Linked DNA regions of Homo sapiens: region 1 is linked to region 2. Evidence: fine-mapped expression QTL. A gene starts in region 2. The other region holds a variant in brackets. All regions are shown on one strand. Distances are between the middles of the regions. Region 1 overlaps PLSCR4 (phospholipid scramblase 4). Region 2 holds the start of PLSCR4 (phospholipid scramblase 4).

Region 1 (9,154 bases), 29 kb before region 2:
TGGGACATCATGGGACAATGCAGTGGTCTGGGGTCAACCAATAATGCAAAAGCCAGTCGCCTTTGAAGGTGATGAAGTCTAAGACATTTTGGTTACTCATAAAAATGCCACTCATAATAGTCATGAATCATGAAATTCTCCTAATACTATCTGAAAACAAGGCCATGAGATAAATCAAAGATTCTTTTATCTATGAAATATTCCTCAAGCCCATTTCAAGGACCAGCTTCTGTGCTTGCTGCTAGAAATATAAGACAGAAAGACATTCAAATGCATGCCTGTCTCCAAGGGCAGCAAGTTCTGTGGAGGCTACAAAGATGTATAAGAAAAGGTGAATGGTTGTCACGAAGCAAGTAATTGACATAATCATAGGTAGATGCATAGCATGTTAAGGGATTAGACAGGAGGGGTACCTAACCTATGCAGAGAAGGTATACTACGATATAGATGCTAACACACTAGACCTAGCCAGCATCTCCATGATGGGGAAAGGTTTTACAGGCAAACGGACAAGAACAGGCAGGTGCATAGAGGAGGCTCACTACTGCAGGACGAACTGCTGTGTGTGGAGATTTAGCAGACAAGGCTAGAAAGATAGGATGAAGATTATGAAAGACCTTGAACTTTATGCCAATCAAATGGAAAGTAAAGTGATTCATTTTACATTTAGAATTCTTTATATATGAGGTCAGATTAGGCAGGAAGTACTTGCAAGGGTCTGGCTAGAAGGCAAGGAAGGCTGATTTTGGTGAAAGGAGCAGAGAGTGGAGAAATGGTAATTGACATTTAAGATACAACATTGACTTTGAAGTGGACTGGATATGAGAAAAGATTCTCAAGTTTCTGGCTTGGGATCCTACAGGCCTCCAGTGTATGGGAAGAATGGAGAAAGAAAATAGAGTTTAGAAGCAAGATAACAAAGTTGGGCTGGTGATCATTGAGTTTGAGATTCAATGGTCTTTCATGAGAAGCAGTCTATAGGTGGTTGGAAGTGCAAGTTTAGAGACTATCAGACTGACATGATCTGTGGATATGTATTTCATAAGTGATGAAGGAAAAGGAAACCTTCAGTATTAACAAGATCACTTAGAAGAGTGTGTAAAAGGAAGGGTGACTGGGAGAGGAGAGAGAAGGAGATGGGGAAGGGCAGGGAAAACCAGGGGAGTAGACCAAATAATTTTGAGAACAGCACTTTTTAAGAGTAGGGACACAGTTTTTGACAGAAACTGACAGTAAGCAGACTAAAGGGAAAATAATGGTAACAGGAAACAATGTCAAATGAGAGTTAAGTGAGAAAAAAAGTATAACGTATTTGGAAAAAAGTGAAGGTAAGTATGTATTTAAGTTTGTTATGAAGAATATACTTTAATTCCTTTAAGAATTGTATTTAAGAGTACCCGAATTGGACTAGAAATCAGATATCCATACCTTCTTTTTTTAACTATTATTAAAAATAACAATGTAACTAAAAATCATATGAATTATCTCAAGAATATTAATCATTATATCACTTCAATGAGTTAATGATTAATTTACCATGTACTTTTAATATAAAAGCACCTCATGTTATAAAATTTGAAGATCAATAAATCAGAAAAAAATTGCCATTTAGATTTTGAGGCTATTCGTATAGAGATTATATTTTTTAAAATTAAATTTATATTTATTTTAAAATTAAATACATATTTATGTAATTGAACAATTTTTGTTATAAGTATGTATTATCCAGAGATAAAAGAAGGAAAACATATGATGAAATTATATGTGGGAAATTGGTATATTATACTTTCTTCTAAGCTTTGAAGTTTTCATAAGAGTTCTGATTGCTTCTGCAGGAAAACAAAGCAAAACAAAACAAAATATGTTTAACTTTGTGTAACTATAGCATCTCAGACTTACGTAAATAAAGACCTCTGTTACGGAGCGTTGTCCTACCAATACTGGTGTAAGACACACTGTCTGATAGGATTTGAGTTTTTTTAGTTATTTTGAACATCAGGAAATCATGCCATTTTCTCTTTAAATATACTAAATATAACAAAGGTTTCTTTATTCTCTTAAACAAGAATAGTGGATAAAATTATTTTTGTGGGAACACATATCCAACACCATAATGCAAATTGGAATTATGTAAAGAAATTGGGATAAATTCATTAACACTACATAATTCAAGTACAGATTTCAAGATTCTTAATTTGAGTCACAGAGACAATTTTTGTCAGTCTTCGTAAGTTTATAGTCCAGCCACCAGGTGGCGATCAGAGCGAAATTTTGCTATATTTTATAACTGAAAATTCATTAGTTGTGTGGTCTGCACTATAATATTTTTACAACTTACCTTGTCATTTAATTTGAAGGATGTAGCCTACTCTCTTGCTGAATTATTGATATACAGAAGAATAGACATACGCTTTATCAGATGAGAACATGATGTATAACCAAGGTTTTTCTCAGAAATGGTGAAGTTTCTGTTCTAGTAGGGTCTAGGTTTTTGGATATAGAGTAATTGGTAAATATAAGATAGATCTTGTATATCATGTTGGAAGTCACTGAAGTGACATATAGAGAAACGATAGATAAAGCATGATTATAATTTAATAATTTAATTTTTAATACCTTGGATTTAGGAAAGGTTGCGCTATTAATGCAGTATGTTATAATGCATTTTATCCTCATAACACACATACACATTAGGAAGAGAAAAAAGGAAATCCTGATGCTTTCAGAAAACACTGTAGGTGCAGAAGCCACCTGAGCTGTATGGATCATATGCCTAGAGCCAAAAAAAACCTTTGGCCGGGCACGGTGGCTCACACCTGTAATCCCAGCACTTTGGGACACTGAGGCAGGTGGATCACCTGAGGTCGGGACTTCGAGACCAGCCTGACCAACATGGAAAAACCTTGTCTCTACAAACAAAAAACAAAGAACAAAAAATAAAAAACAAAAATTAGCCGGGCGTGGTGGTGCATGCCTGTGATCCCAGCTACTCCGAAAGCTGATGCAGGAGAATCACTTGAACCTGGGAGGTGGAGGTTGTGGTGAGCCAAGATCGCACCATTGCACTCCAGCCTGGGCAACAAGACTGAAACTCCATCTCAAAAAAAAAACTTTTGCCATTATCTTGTGCCATTATCTTGTACATAGCAGGGTTTCTTTTCCCCCTTCAGAGCATAACACAATGGTTTCTACTTCTAAATATACGCTTAAATATGTATTTTAAAAAAATATTACTACAGTGTCTACATCATTATGTAAGTCATTAAAATGTGTTTAAAGACAATACTAACTATTTCCTTGGCCAAAAGTAAGGGCACTTTTAATTTTTAAAATTTTAAACTTGGCCAAATTGTTTTCTAACAATCATAATATCTCAAATTCACACTAGCACTGTATAAAGTATTCATTCTCCCAAGACATCACCAGTAGTGCACTCAGACTTACAAAAATATTTGCCAGAAAGATAAGCTCCTTAATCAGCACCCATGGCCATTCACTTCCATTTCTCTGCACATCTTCCATGTGTCTCATGCATGCCTCATACCAGATTTTCATGACCCTGTACTTACGGACATATGATTCTTTCTGCTAAGGATAGTCCTTTCCCCCTTTTCTTTGCTTGTGAAATTTTTATCATGACAGCAAAACTTGACCTCCTTAGTCAGGGCTTTCCTCAAATCCCTGGCAATGTCAAATACTGTCTTCTGTGTCCTTACAACACTCTCTTCATATCTCCATATAGAATGGAGAGAATGTCATCAATATTTGCACAACTTCCATCTAAAAGCCTGTAAATCCTATGGCTACAGGAATATATTCTAACTGACATATAGTAAACTATGTGGCACCCTATTGGCATCCAATATTTATTTACTTATTAAATCAGTCAATTAATTTGTTCGCTTAAAAAGCAATTTTAATCATTAGTATGGTTTTTAGCAAAGGAGAATATCTTTTATGAATATTTAACCCACCTGGTAAAAAATGAGAATTGTATTCAGGAGGAGCATCAGGCCTTGGATCTGGTGGTTTTGTTTGATTTTCCATTTCACCTGCAGGCTGTTCAGGGGCTGTGGGTACCACACCTTCAGGGGAAGACAGGGAACATGACTTACAAAGGAAACAATAATATAATGACAAAATGTATTCTTTTTCCTTTCTTATGGGAATGCATCAAGAAATATAATCAACTGGAAAATACACTCCTATATTTTTTAAAGAAAGAATTCATCATATATTAGACACTATTAATAAATTTCATGAATTTTCAAACTGAACATAGATTTAAAAATAGAACTAAACAATTATATTATGCTTGTGATCAAAGCAATGAGCTTTCATACTAGTGGTTCAACTGCCCCGATGCTAACTCTTATCTACAAAGTAAATTCCTGGCATAATAGCAAAAATTATTTTTCCCTTTACATAATATGGAGAACACAAGCATTTATAGAGTGAAGTTGATTTTTTTTCCTAATTATTTTTGGAAAGTGCTGTCTAAAAAGATTCACAACATAACACCATAAACAAATAATGGTTTAATAAACAGTGGTGTCACACACAACTGAATTAGCAATAGTTTAGTCTACATCTCCAGTGACTCACATTTTCACTGTATTCTTTCTAAAAGCAATCTAGGTCACAGTAATTGCTGCAAGGGAGGTACTGAAGTCAGTTTCATGATGTTGTACCTTGTCTTCTTATTGAGATTAGAGACTAATTTCTCTCTCTGCTTACTACAAAAAAAAGCTGAGTTTCCTAAACAACCAGTTGACTTTTATCTCCTAGCAAACAAAAATCCCATAAATGTGGTTTTTCTCTCTTTATGTAAGTTACTAGAAAATACAAGGCCTACTTTCATCCTCCTCTACCAAGGCAGGACCTTGCCACAGGCTCTTTATTACTACAACCTCTCTTTGCAGAACTGCTTTGCAAATCTTGCTTTTTTTATTACCTAATTTTCCCCACAAACTTCAAAGATTATTCAGTAGATATGTGTCCCACTGTAAGTCCCTTTTTAATCTTTTTCTGACAATGATAGGAATGTCTATATACATAAATAACAAATATATACATACATATATATATGCAAACACACACACGTATTTATATTTGCCAAATGTTAAACAAAAAAAAATCGAAATAAAGTCCCCCTTTAGGGAAAATAATCACAAAATTCACATTTGAAAATAAAGCATATTCAAATTTATTCACAAAAACTTACCTGACATTTTGAAGAATTCCAATTAATCCTGAAAAATAAAAAATGTTAATGCCTTTAAAATACATACATAATAAATAGTATTGCTACTCAGTAACACAGGTAAGGATTTCTGTAATTTTTTTAACCTCCAGTTACCTTACATTTGTCCCTTCATTAATTAAAAAAATACTTATTGAGCACCTATTATGTACGAGGCACTAATACAGATGTT[G/A]AGAGTACAGCAATGAAGCAGACAGACACTCTGCCACCTACTGTGCTGCAGTTTATATTGTAGTAGAATGAGATTTAAAAAAAGTCAAGAAATGTTAAAGTTTAACGTTAGATAGTACAGTTATGAGGAAAACAATGTAACAAGCTTAAGAGAAACACGGATGGTAAGTTCTAGGAGAGTCAGGGAAAGCCTGTCTCAGGAAGTGACCTTTGAGCTGTTTCAACTATGAAAAATAAACATCACACTACAATTGTGGGAAGAGAGTTCCAGGAAGATAGGAAATTAGTGCAAAGGGTCAGAGATGGCAGTGAGCATGGGATACTGAAGGGAGGAAAAGAGAAAGTGGTTTAGGAGTGACTGGGCCACAGTGAGTGAAGCGAACTGAGGTAAGACATGCAGATAAAGGTCTGATCTCATCTGAAGGCCATGGCAAGGGGTTTGGCATTTTTGGTATTTGCAACTGGGAAGTCTGGAGGATTCAGTCGGTGGAGTGATCAGATCTGACCGACATCATACAATGAGAGCAAGAGTAGAAGCAGGGAGCAGTGAGGGATGGCAGCAGCAATCCAGGTGAGAGCTGACACCAGCTTAGATGGGGGAGGTGACACTGCAGGTTAGGAGTGTTCAGAGGCATGATACGGTTTGGAAGCAGGGCCTCCAGGAGTCGCTGATGGACTAAGGTAAAGAGAGGAGTGGAAGAGGGTTCTGAGTCATAGCCCAAGGTAACTGAGTTGACGGTGATCCTATTAACAAAACTAGAGAGGAGGATAGTGGGGGAATAGTGGGGATGGAGGAGGGTAAGAATTGAAAGTTTAGACTGGGGCATGTTTAAGAAGAGACTAAAAGAAGTTAAACATTTAAATTAAAAATATGTATGGGAACATTATGAGAATAACTCAAAGAAGAAGACTAGAAGTTGAGACGAGATTTGAAACAAGGAATGAGGGTGAAGGTAAATTTTTCTGAATTCAGTCAGGCAAAAAAAAGGCTATTATTTGAGAAGGGAATTTCAATATATCTGAATTTCTGAGTTCTGAGTAATGACAAATAACAAAAAGAGTATCAACAAAGGCTATAATTTACTGAATGCTTATCAAGTGTTAGGCAAAGGGCCCAATTCTTTTCACATATCTCTGATTATAACAACTCTCTAATGTGTAAATGGCCAACCCTGCTAAAGGCAAGTGCTTCTAAATCCTAAGCCTATGTACTTTTCAATATGTGATCATGTTCATAAGAATACAGTCATTTGCGTTGTCCAAGTGGAGTAAAAAAGTATCAAGTTAGAGTAGGTCAAAAAAGCATTCAAACAACGTATTAGTGAGTCATCAATATGGACACTGAGCTGACTCAATGAAAACTGCCATGGTACGAGCCAGTATGCAGATTCCCAGCTGAAATGATTGTCTTGCCAAGACGGGTGAAAGTTTAACCAGTCTTGGACCATCTCCACTCACCTCTGGAGCTGGAGTTTGTTGTACGGTGCCCTATGTGTCTCCAAGCTTAAAAAATACATATAAATATATTTTAAAACATATATATTTACTTTTATATAATATATATTATGTAAAAATGTTTTAAATATATATTTAATATATATTATATATTTTTACATTTATATTTTAAATATATTAATATTTAAATATAAAATAATACAAATATATAATAATTATAAATAATAAATATTTATTTATTTATTTATTTATTCTGGGGCATACCAAAAAGTCAGACCCAATTCTGGGCCAGTAAAAGGAGTTCAAGGGGTTAGTCATATTCCTTAATGATGGTAATCCCTGTTGTTAAGGAAAATGACTACAGCTTTCTAGAAATTTAGACACTCCTAGTTATGTACCTGGAAGTGACTCTTGCACATGCACACAGGATATAGACAAGAATGTTCTTGATAACACTATTCATATTTAAAAGAATGAAAACTTGCCTAATGTCCATCAATGGTAGACTGAATAAATAAATTCTGGTACATTCACATGATACAATAATATCCTGTAGTGAAAACAAATTATAGCTGTGCACGTGGACAGAGATGTATCTCAAAATTATAGCACAACAGAAAAAGCAAATCACTGGAGAATACATGTAGTATTGTGTCCAGAATTGGTGGGTTCTTGGTCTCACTGACTTCAAGAACGAAGCCGCGGACCCTCGCGGTGAGTGTTACAGCTCTTAAGGTGGCGCATCTGGAGTTTGTTCCTTCTTATGTTCCGATGTATTCGGAGTTTCTTCCTTCTGGTGGGTTCGTGGTCTCGCTGGCTCAGGAGTGAAGCTGCAGACCTTCGCGGTGAGTGTTACAGCTCATAAAAGCAGTGTGGACCCAAACAGTGAGCAGCAGCAAGATTTATTGCAAACAGCAAAAGAAAAAAAGCTTCCACAGTGTGGAAGGGGACCCGAGCGGGTTGCCAATGCTGGCTCGGGCAGCCTGCTTTTATTCTCTTATCTGGCCCCACCCACACCCTGCTGATTGGTAGAGCCGAGTGGCCTGTTTTGACAGGGTACTGATTGGTGCATTTACAATCCCTGCGCTAGATACAAAGGTTCTCCACGTCCCCATCAGATTAGTTAGATACAGAGTATGGACACAAAGGTTCTCCACGTCCCCATCAGATTAGTTAGATACAGAGTATGGACACAAAGGTTCTCCAAGGCCCCACCAGAGCAGCTAGATACAGAGTGTCGATTGGTGCACTCACAAACCTTGAGCTAAACACAGGGTGCTGATTGGTGTATTTACAAACCTTGAGCTAAATACAGAGTGCCAATTGGTGTATTTACAATCCCTGAGATAGACATAAAGGTTCTCCAAGGCCCCACCAAAGCAGCTAGATACAGAGTGTCCATTGGTGCACTCACAAACCTTGAGCTAAACACAGGGTGCTGATTGGTGTATTTACAATCCCTGAGCTAGACATAAAGGTTCTCCAAGGCCCCACCAGAGCAGCTAGTTACAGAGTGTCCATTGGTGCACTCACAAACCTTCAGCTAAACACAGGGTGCTGATTGGTGTATTTATAATCCCTGAGCTAGACATAAAGACTCTCCACTTCCCCACCAGACTCAGGAGCACAGCTGGCTTCACCTAGTGGATCCCGCAGCAGGGCTGCAGGTGGAGCTGCCTGCCAGTCCCGTGCCATGCGCTTGCACTCCTCAGCCCTTGGGTGGTCGATGGGACTGGGTGCGGTGGAGCAGGGGGTGGTGCTCGTCGGGGAGGCTCGGGCCGCACAGGAGCCCATGGAGGGGGTGGGAGGCTCAGGCATGGCAGGCAGCAGGTCCCGAGCCCCGCCCCGCAGGAAGGCAGCTAAGGCTTGGTGAGAAATCGAGCACAGCACCGGTGGGCTGGCACTGCTGGAGGACTCACTACACCCTCCGCAGCCACTGGCCCAGGAGCTAAGTCCCTCATTGCCCGGGGCCAGCAGGGCTGGCCGACTGCTCCGAGTGTGGGGCCCGCCAAGCCGACGCCCACCCGGAACTCCAGCTGGCCCGCAAGCGCCGCACGCGGTTGCCGCTGGCGCCTCTCCCTCCACACCTCCCTGCAAGCTGAGGGAGTGGGCTCCAGCCTTGGCCAGCCCAGAAAGGGGCTCCCACAGTGCAGTGGTGGGCTGAAGGGCTCCTCAAATGCCGCCGAAGTGGGAGCCCAGGCAGAGGAGGTGCCGAGAGCGAGGGCTCTGAGGACTGCCAGCACACTGTCACCTCGCAGTATGATT
Region 2 (9,154 bases):
TCATCAAAGAGGAAATATTATGCACACCTTTCCAAGTACAATCCTCTTTATAGACTTTAAGCCAAATTTCTTGGCTCCTATGGTGGACTGTGTTAATTACTTTTATGGGTTTCTTGGCTATAGGGAACTGGATAGTTCAGTGGGCTCAATATGAGTGGATTAAAGTCCAATGACTGAAGGATTCAGTCATTTCTGTAGACATCTTGTAAACTTAGTAAGTTTCTGTCACATGGGCTGAAATTAGAGAAACGAATTCCAGGCTTGCACAAAAGATAAACCTAGGTCCATGTTGATAAAATATGCTGCAGCAGGAATGTCCCATAGATACACAGTATCTTCATTATAATTACATGTTAACATATATGTATTTAATTGTATCTTTGCATAAAATCAATTCTAGAAGAAACTTAGGGAGTGATTAATGTTCAACAAATTACAAGGGCAAAACCTAAGATTTTTATTGTGTTGTTTTTATAACCTATATCAATATATTTATTATTTTATTAACATCATGACTCCTTCAAAAGAAAAAGTGTATGGTAGAATATTTCATTCTTTTTAGCAAGTGTGAAGGATCTTGGAGGTTAGCTATTTGGCTTTAATATAAAATAAAAGATAAGATTAAATGAAAGCAAATTGATAGCCACAGTCCATACATAACCTTTATTAAATATATTAATTTAGTTCAAATTGTTTAAAGAGAATATCAGGTGTCTCCTTTTTAGCTTTCAAAAGGGAAATGTTTTTGTTATTTAGAGTAGAAAAATATCAGAACAATATTCTCATGATGTTTATATAAGACATTAAGGAAACATTACCATGCCAACTATGATTACCAAGAACGCCTCATTGTGTCATTTTACAGCTAGTCTTTTAGTATTTAAAATTGTAGTAAAACAAGATGTCATGTTGCATACAGTTAAGTCACTTTGATAAGAAACTTTACATTTATGAAAACAGACTTTTAAAAAACAGATGTTATGTGCAAACAAACACAAATATAATTCAAGGAGTCGGCAGTGCATACATTTACACAATACATTTATACAAAAAAATCCCACCTACTCCAATTCCCATTTCCCATTTGAAAAGGCAACCACAGACATTAGATTTTTTTTCCTCCAATAGATTTTCTAAGCATATATAAACTAATACACACAGTTTTTATAAAATGGCAATCATCTATATACTTTTCTGTGTCTTTTTCTTTTCATTTATTAAAATGTCTTGATGTTAATTACATTTCAGTCCATATAACCTCATTCTTTTTAATGGCTGCAACATAATGTATTTAACTGGCTGCCTAATGACAACAAGTTAAATCGTTTCCAAATTTAGGCTATTACCAAAAATGCTGAAAAAAATATTTTCTTCCTGTGGATCTGTGCATTAAATTATTGGAAGCAGAACTGATGGATCAAAGTTTTGTACATTTTTAAAGATACTATCAAACTGCACTCTAAAGAATTTGAATCAATTTAGACCCCAGACAAAAAGTTACATTCCTAATACAGTATTTTATCAACATTTTTGTAGTAGTCAATCTGATATATAAAAAAAAAAAATTGGTTTTATTTTCCATATATCTCATAATGAGGAGGCTGAGCCACTTTTATTATTTGTTTGAAAGCAATTTGCAACTCTATTTCTGTGAACTGCCTGTTTGTCATTTGTTCATTTTTGTTAGCTTTTCATTTGTCTTCTTTATATGAAAGGTATTAAAATTTTATATTAAAATTATCTTTTCAAAACTTATCATTTGTCTTCACTGCATTTTTGTCATGCAGTTTTATTTTTGAGGCAGGGTCTCTTTCTGTTGCCCATGCTGGAGTGCAGTGGCATGATAATGGCTCACTGCAGCCTTGACCTCCCAGGCTCAATCAATTGTCCTACCTCAGCCTCCTGAGCAGCTGGCACTACAGGTGGGTGCCACCATGCCTGGCTAATTTTTAAATTTTTTTAGAGGTGGGGTATCGCCATGTTTCCCAGGCTGCTCTCAAACTCCTGGGCTAAAACAATCTGCCCACCCCTGCCTCTCAAAGTACTGTGATAACGGGCGTGAGCTACCGCCACCCAGCCTTACCATGCAATTAAAAACAATTTTTTTCCAACTTTAGATGTTTTTCTTTTTAAGGACTAGCATATCTATCTCTTTCATCCTGAAGAATGAGTACTATAAAAATGAATTTTAGCACAATGCTGGTGAACATATGAGTATGAACATTGCTGTATTTTTTGTTTATAAAAGTTAACTGGTTGTGAAATCCCTCAAGCAAAATTCTTCACTGCTGTTCTTGCAATAAACATCATAAACATCAATATTAAGGAAGGGGATTTTAAAGGAAGCAGCTGAAAGAGGACACTTATAAAAGAAAAAAAATGAGACAATATGAAAGGTTTTGTGAAATATATTTCTTCTGTAGTAAATGACAGCTAATATATTCAAGAAGGCAATGTTCTGTATAAATTACTATCACTATCAATTTTTCCTTATACACACGCATACATTATAGAAATGTGTAAAACAACATCACTACTCATAATAATATAATTCGGCTGTGTGTAAAACATCACTACTCACAATATAATTCAGCCTATATTCCAAATTATTTACAAAAATATAATTACTACACTACACACACACAGACACACACACACACACACAGTGTTTCAACTTGTTGTTTCATTTTGTGTTTTAACTTTATGTTTTGGACATATTTCCAAGTTAGAACATTTAGAGCTACAATGTTTTAAACTGTATATTATTCCACCTTTGAATATACCATACATTATGTAACCAATTCCCAATCAATGGCTACAGAGCTGTATCCATGTTTTCTACATTGTAAACAATCCTACTTTAAACATCTTTGACAGAGATTTTTATTTGTACACTTGGGAGCATGTTTTGCTGGATAAATTCCAGTTAAGTAAATGAACATTTGTAAATCTGAACAGCTTTAACCCTAAAACAGCTTCACCAATTCACATTTCCACTAAAAGTTTGTAAAATTATATTTTCCTCACTGCATTTTCAACAACACCTAAAGTTATCAGACTTTCAAAATTTGTAAAATTAATGCAAAAATTGATGTCTTACTTCATATATGTTTTGGATAATTAGTGTGGCTAACAGTATTCACTCTGCTTATTATTTGCATTTCTTTTGCTTTGAGTTGACTCTTTTTATCCTTAACTGGGTCATTGATTTTGAAGGTCATTAATAAGATTTCTAGGTATATTAGCAAAATTATCTTTTTTTTTCTATTAACAATGTCCGCAGTTTGTATCTTTTTTGGGGGATGCAAATGTTAATAAAAATCATGTCCCTAAATGGGTCTAGGTTTTTGTATTATGCTTAGAAATGCTTTTCCCACATGCAATGTGCACAAATATCTATTCAGGCTTTCTTTTTCCCTTTTTAGGCTGCATATGTTTAGATTTAAACTAGTAAGCCATCTAGACTACATTTGTCTATTAACAGTGAGGAAAAGTTCCAGTTTTATTATTAGGTTTCCCAAACAAATTCCTGCTTGTCCAAGTACATTCAATTAAATGTTATTTCTTCTTCCCACCCAGTGATTTAAAATGTATGCTTATCAAATGCCAGCTTTCCTTTTATTCTTCCATGTCTCTTCAGTTTCATTTACACATCTGGTAGTAGGTCTACTGCACTGTCTTTTAATCACCACAGTTTTGTAACACCTTTTATTATATGAAGAAGTCTCCACTATATATATGTGTGTATGTATAATATTAAATGTTAAAATCATATATAATATATAAAATAAGACATAATTATATATTTTGTATTTTATTATTTGTAATATATTATACATAACGTTAATATGTTTGTTCTTCCACATGAGCTAAACAGTACAGTTAAAAACAGTAACAAAAATATTCAGTTAGGATTCTACTTATACGTTGTTTTAGAGAAATGATATCTTTACCTAGAAGAATGTTATGTATTTTATTGGATTCTCATACATACCTTTTTATATCTTCTTAAAAATAATTTCTCAATTGTGTGTTATTTCATGCCAAACTGAATTTTACTTTATTTTACTGTATTATCTAGTTTATGTATAAACATCAACTGACTTCTATAAATTAAGTATGATGCAATTGGAAACTTTGATAAATTCACTTATGCTTCCCATCAAATTTCAGTGTTTCCTATGGACATTAAGGTATACACTCACATCATGCATAAAGTGATAATATGTTCCCCTACCTGTTGTCACTCGCCCATAGAATTCACAACCATGTCACAGAGTGTAATGATTAGCATTCTTGTCTTTTTCAAATTTAATGGAAATGCTGCTAGTATTTCACAGCTATCCATGAGAGCAGATAGACAGATGGAGGTTGTGTTCTATTACTATTACAGGAGAATGCAATTTAAATTAGGCAATCTATTCCCCTTTAAGCAGTATCAAGTTTGGTGCATTATATCTTCACAAGTACTTATTTTGGTGGCTCCATTCTAAATGCAGTATAAAATTAAAAACTAAATTGTAGATCCTAAGAGAAGATAAGGCCACAAAATAAAATCCTAAGTCTTTAAATATGAACGTTTTTAAAAACAAATCAAGCACAGCCCCAAATCGCCCCAGTTTGCCAGAATTGGAAATAAGAGAGAGGGATTCTCTCCTGTCACCGCCTCCACTCGCTGAGCAATTAAAAAGTTACTATAAATAGCGTTTTTACCTGCGAGTGGCCTGGCCTGAGTCCGTGAGAGCCGCGCCGTAGAAACGCCAGAGACCCATGAGAAACCCAATCAAGCGAGACCTGTCACGCAGAGCGAAACGAAAGGGCCGCCCCCGTGAAGTGCAGCCAGGACCCCCATCCCTGGGCAGGAAACTGCTCGCTCCCAAACCCTCTGCGTCTGCAGTGCAGACGCGCGCCCGACACCACGGAACTTCTGCAACCACCTGAGGATGCGACGCGAGCGCAGTGTCCGGGAACTGCTAGCGCAGGACGCCGCGCAACCTCCGCGCCTGCCCGCAGGCACCGCGGCCTCGGGCCTCCCCTGACGACGCCCTCGGCCCCGCAGCCCGGGCGCCCGCGCCACCCTGTCCTGCTCTGCGCCCGCCTGTCCAGCCCCACTCACCGCCTGCCCCGCAGAATGCTGGGCACCGGGGACGCCAGACGCCGGGTCTAGTTGTACTGGCAGAGGAAAGGGAAAGGAAAGGAGGCAGGGAAGGGAGACGGAGAGGATTTTTCAAGTTATAAACAAAGTAAGCGCGCGGAAGGGAGGGCTAGGCGCGGGTTCTGGGGGCGGGTCCGGCACGCCTGGACCCTCCTTCCCCGCGCGCGGCTTCCCCGTCTCGGACCCCGCCCCGCGCTGGGAGAGCCGCCAGCCCGGGGGAGCGTCTTCCTGGAAGAGGTGGGGCACCCTGAAGTCCGCTGAAACCTAAAAGCCGAGGGGGAGGAAGAAATGAAGAAAATAAGTTGTCACTACTCTAATAAGAGGTGAAAGAAAAGATAAAAGCCAGCCCACGGTCACTTCCAATCAGAGGGGCAGGTTGCAGGGCCTGGGAAAGGGAGCTTTGTTCATAGATTACTGCGCCTAGAGAGAAAATGAAGAAACCCCTCTTTCTCAAGAGCCTTTTTTATTTTTTTATTTTTATTTTTGATACGGAGTCTCACTCTGTCGCCCAGGCTGGAGTGCAGTGGCGCGATCTCGGCTCACTGCAAGCTCCGCCTCCCAGGTTCAGGCCATTCTCCTGCCTCAGCCTCCCTAGCAGCTGGGACTACAGGCGCCCGCCACCACGCCCGGCTAATTTTTTGTATTTTTTACTAGAGACGGGGTTTCACCGTGTTAGCCAGGATGGTTTCGATCTCCTGACCTCGTGATCCGCCCGCCTCGGCCTCCAAAAGTGCTGGGATTACAGGCGTGAGCCACTGCACCCGGCCTCAAGAGCCTTTTTGATTTGCATTTGCGCCCACCCCCAGGTCCTTGGCTTGGTGATTTAGCCTTGGCAATGCCGTGCTGGCTGGAAACACTTGGGCATAGGGCCCAGAAATTCTGTTTTCTTTTCCACAGAATTGGGGGAGGCCAATTTGATCTTGGAGGGAAGGCGGGAGAGACGCCAATAAAGGGGAAAGGGAGCAGGTTGCCCATGTTTTCTGACATTGGGAGAAAAATGCCATTTGCTTATTACTGTTAGGCACAAATATTTCTTTCAGACCAATGGGATTCAGTTCTGTGGTGGTGCTTGGAGAGAAGCACAATACACTGACAGGAAGTGGGAGAACTGAAGGTCCTCTGACCTTATAAAGAATCAGAACTGGACAGAAGTAAGCTTGATTAAGCTCTGAGGAGTACTTGGCAGAACCCCATTGTGGGAGAAGGTTGGAAAGGGGAAGGGATGTGGGAGTGGAGTTCTAGAATTTTATATTTTTCTTTGTATGTGTGTTATTTGTTAATATTCATGTGAGAATAGATTAAAAAATTCATACTGTTCTTCTCAGTAATAATTGCACAGAACATTTCTCAGATGCAGACATAGTGTTTTACTGAAAGCATAAAACAAAGAAACTGGTGGTGAAACTAAATTATAATAGCATATGTTACTGTTGGGAGCAAGCCCCCCAAAATCTGGCCATAAACTGGCCCCAAGACTGGCCATAAACAAAATCTCTGCAGCACTGTAACATGTTCATAATGGCCCTAATGCCCAAGCTGGAAGGTTGTGGGTTTACGGGAGTGAGGGTGAGGAACACCTGGCCCGCTCAGGGCGAAAACCGCTTAAAGGCATTGTTAAGCCACAAACAATGAGCATGAGCGGTCTGTGTCTTAAGGGCGTGTTCCTGCTGCAGTTAATCCGGCCCATCCCTTCGTTTCCCTTAAGGGATACTTTTAGTTAATTTAACATCTATAGAAACAATGCTAATGACTGGTTTGCTGTTAATACGTGGGTAAATCTCTGTTCGGGGGTGTCAGCTCTGAAGGCTATGACACCCCTGATTTCCCACTTGACACCTCTATATTTCTGTGTGTGTGTCTTTAATTCCTCTAGCGCCGCTGGGTTAGGGTCTCCCCGACTGAGCTGGTCTCGGCATGTTACCTTTGTTTAAAATTTATGAAAGAGGCCAAGTAATTGAGCTTATGAATGTAAACATCCACAGTGGCCACGTGAAGATACCAAAAATTTCAAGAGCAAAACATGTCTTGTGAAACATATTGCTTTGAGGGATTAAAATAAAATCAAGTATGTCATATACCCCAAATCACAACTTTCGAGGGGAAGAAGAAGAACTCAATTTCCTGTTTTTCTGAAATTTCCTGATCTGATGACTTTCCAACCTGGACATTTCGAGGGATGACAAATTAACTACTTTTTATACTAATCCCATTTTAGTTGCTCTGTTGCTCCAAGTGTATTTCTTCGTGTTATTTCCTTTTCACTGGTTGTTCTTAGGTTACCACAGTCTACTTAGAGTTAATAATGTACCACTTCACATAAAGTTAAGAAATTTATAATTACTTTACAGTTCCTCAATTGTATGTGCAAATGCTATCAGATTTTACATACCCATTAATTATAGACTTTACACAACAAAATGTTTTAAGTTTTGCTTAACTAGTGCATTGTCTTTTACAGAAATTAAAAGAAGAAAATAGCTTTTCTATATTTCCACATATACACAATTTCCTGTGCTCCTCGTTTTTTTTCTTATAGATCTTAATTTCACCTATTATCACTTACCTTCAGGCTAGAGACTTTCCTATAGTAGTTCTTGTTATTTTTGAGACAGTGTCTCACTCTGGTTGCCTAGGCTGGAGTACAGTGGCACAACCTCAGCCCACTGCGGCCTCGACCTCCTGGGCTCAGGTGATTCTTCCACCTCAGCGTCCCAAGTAGCTGAGATTACAGGCACATGCCACCATGCCCAGCTAATTTTTTTTTTTTTTTTTGGAGGGGGGAGACAAGATTTGGCTTTGTTACATGGACTGGTCTAAAACTCCTGGATTCAAGCAGTCTGCCTGCCTTGACCTACCAAAGTGCTGGGATACAGGTGTGAGCCACTATACCTAGTCCCTTTAGTATTTCTTGTAGTGCAGAACAGCTACAGACAAAATCTTTTTAGATTTTTAAATCTAAAAATGTTTTTATTTTGTATGAATTTTGTAATGATATTTTTACTGGTTATAGAATTCTGGGTGTACAGATTTTTTTTATTTTATTCCCCAACAATTTTGACCTCCATTTTTATCTGACAGAATGCATATTGTTGGTTTTAAGAATAACTTTTTATCATTGGTTTTTCTGCAGTTAGTCTATGATGTATGCTTCTTTCTGTATTCTACTGTGGTTTTCTGAGTTTCACAGATACATAAGTAGATATTATTCACAAAATTTGAAAAACTTGCAGTCATTATTTCTTTACTGCACCATACCCATTTCTCTCTCTTCTCCTTCTGGAAATTCAGTTCAATTAATTGTATGTTGGACCATATGATACTGACTCACAGCTCACCAAGACTTTATTTACATTTTTTTGATTTTTTTCTCTTTAAGTTAAATAATTTCTATGGATCCGTCTCAAAAATATGCTGACCCTTATTTCAATCTACTGTTAAGTCCATTACAGTATTAACACTTTTCAGTGCTAGTATTTCTATTTGGTTCATTTGTGCAGCTTCCATGTCTTTTGATGAGATTTCACATCTGTTCATTCACTAAGACCATCATTTTCTTAACTTTTTAACTTATAATAACTGTTTGATAAGGTTTGGATCTGTGTCCCTCCCAAATTTCATGTTGAAATGTAATCCCCAGTGTTAAAGGTGGCCTGTTGGGAGGTGTTTGGATTATAAGGGAGAATCTCCTGTGAATGGCTTAGTGCCATTGCCTTAGTGATGAGTGTGTTCTTGCTCTGGTAGTTCCTGTGAGATCTGGTTATTTAAAAGAGTGTGTCCTCTCCCCTCTCTGTCTCACTCCAGCTCTTGCCATTAATACACCTGCTCCCCGTTTGCTTTCTGCCGTGATTGTAAGCTTCTTGATGCCTCACTAGAGGCAGATGGTATCACTGTGCTTCCTGTGCAGCCTGCAGAACCATTTAAACCTGTACAGCCTGCAGAGCCAATTAAACCTCTTTTCTTTATAAATTACCCAGTCTCAAGTGCTTCCTGTACAGCCTG

What was found. PIP is the estimated chance that this variant, and not a neighbour inherited with it, causes the effect. A credible set is the group of variants that fine-mapping cannot tell apart.
Region 1: its variant is the best candidate, but not a certain one, in a credible set for the expression of PLSCR4 in sigmoid colon (GTEx, PIP 0.86).

What each region holds. Positions count from the first base shown.
Region 1 is chr3:146,216,841-146,225,994 of GRCh38, forward strand. It overlaps PLSCR4 (phospholipid scramblase 4), which reads right to left. Exons shown (of 9, transcript NM_020353.3): 2 at 5,225-5,252; 3 at 3,975-4,085. The coding sequence starts at 5,231. Among named protein-coding and RNA genes, the nearest start is that of PLSCR4, 30 kb to the right of the region's middle. The variant G/A (reference allele first, on the strand shown) is at 5,436.
Region 2 is chr3:146,245,844-146,254,997 of GRCh38, forward strand. It overlaps PLSCR4 (phospholipid scramblase 4), which reads right to left and starts at 5,262. Exons shown (of 9, transcript NM_020353.3): 1 at 5,117-5,262.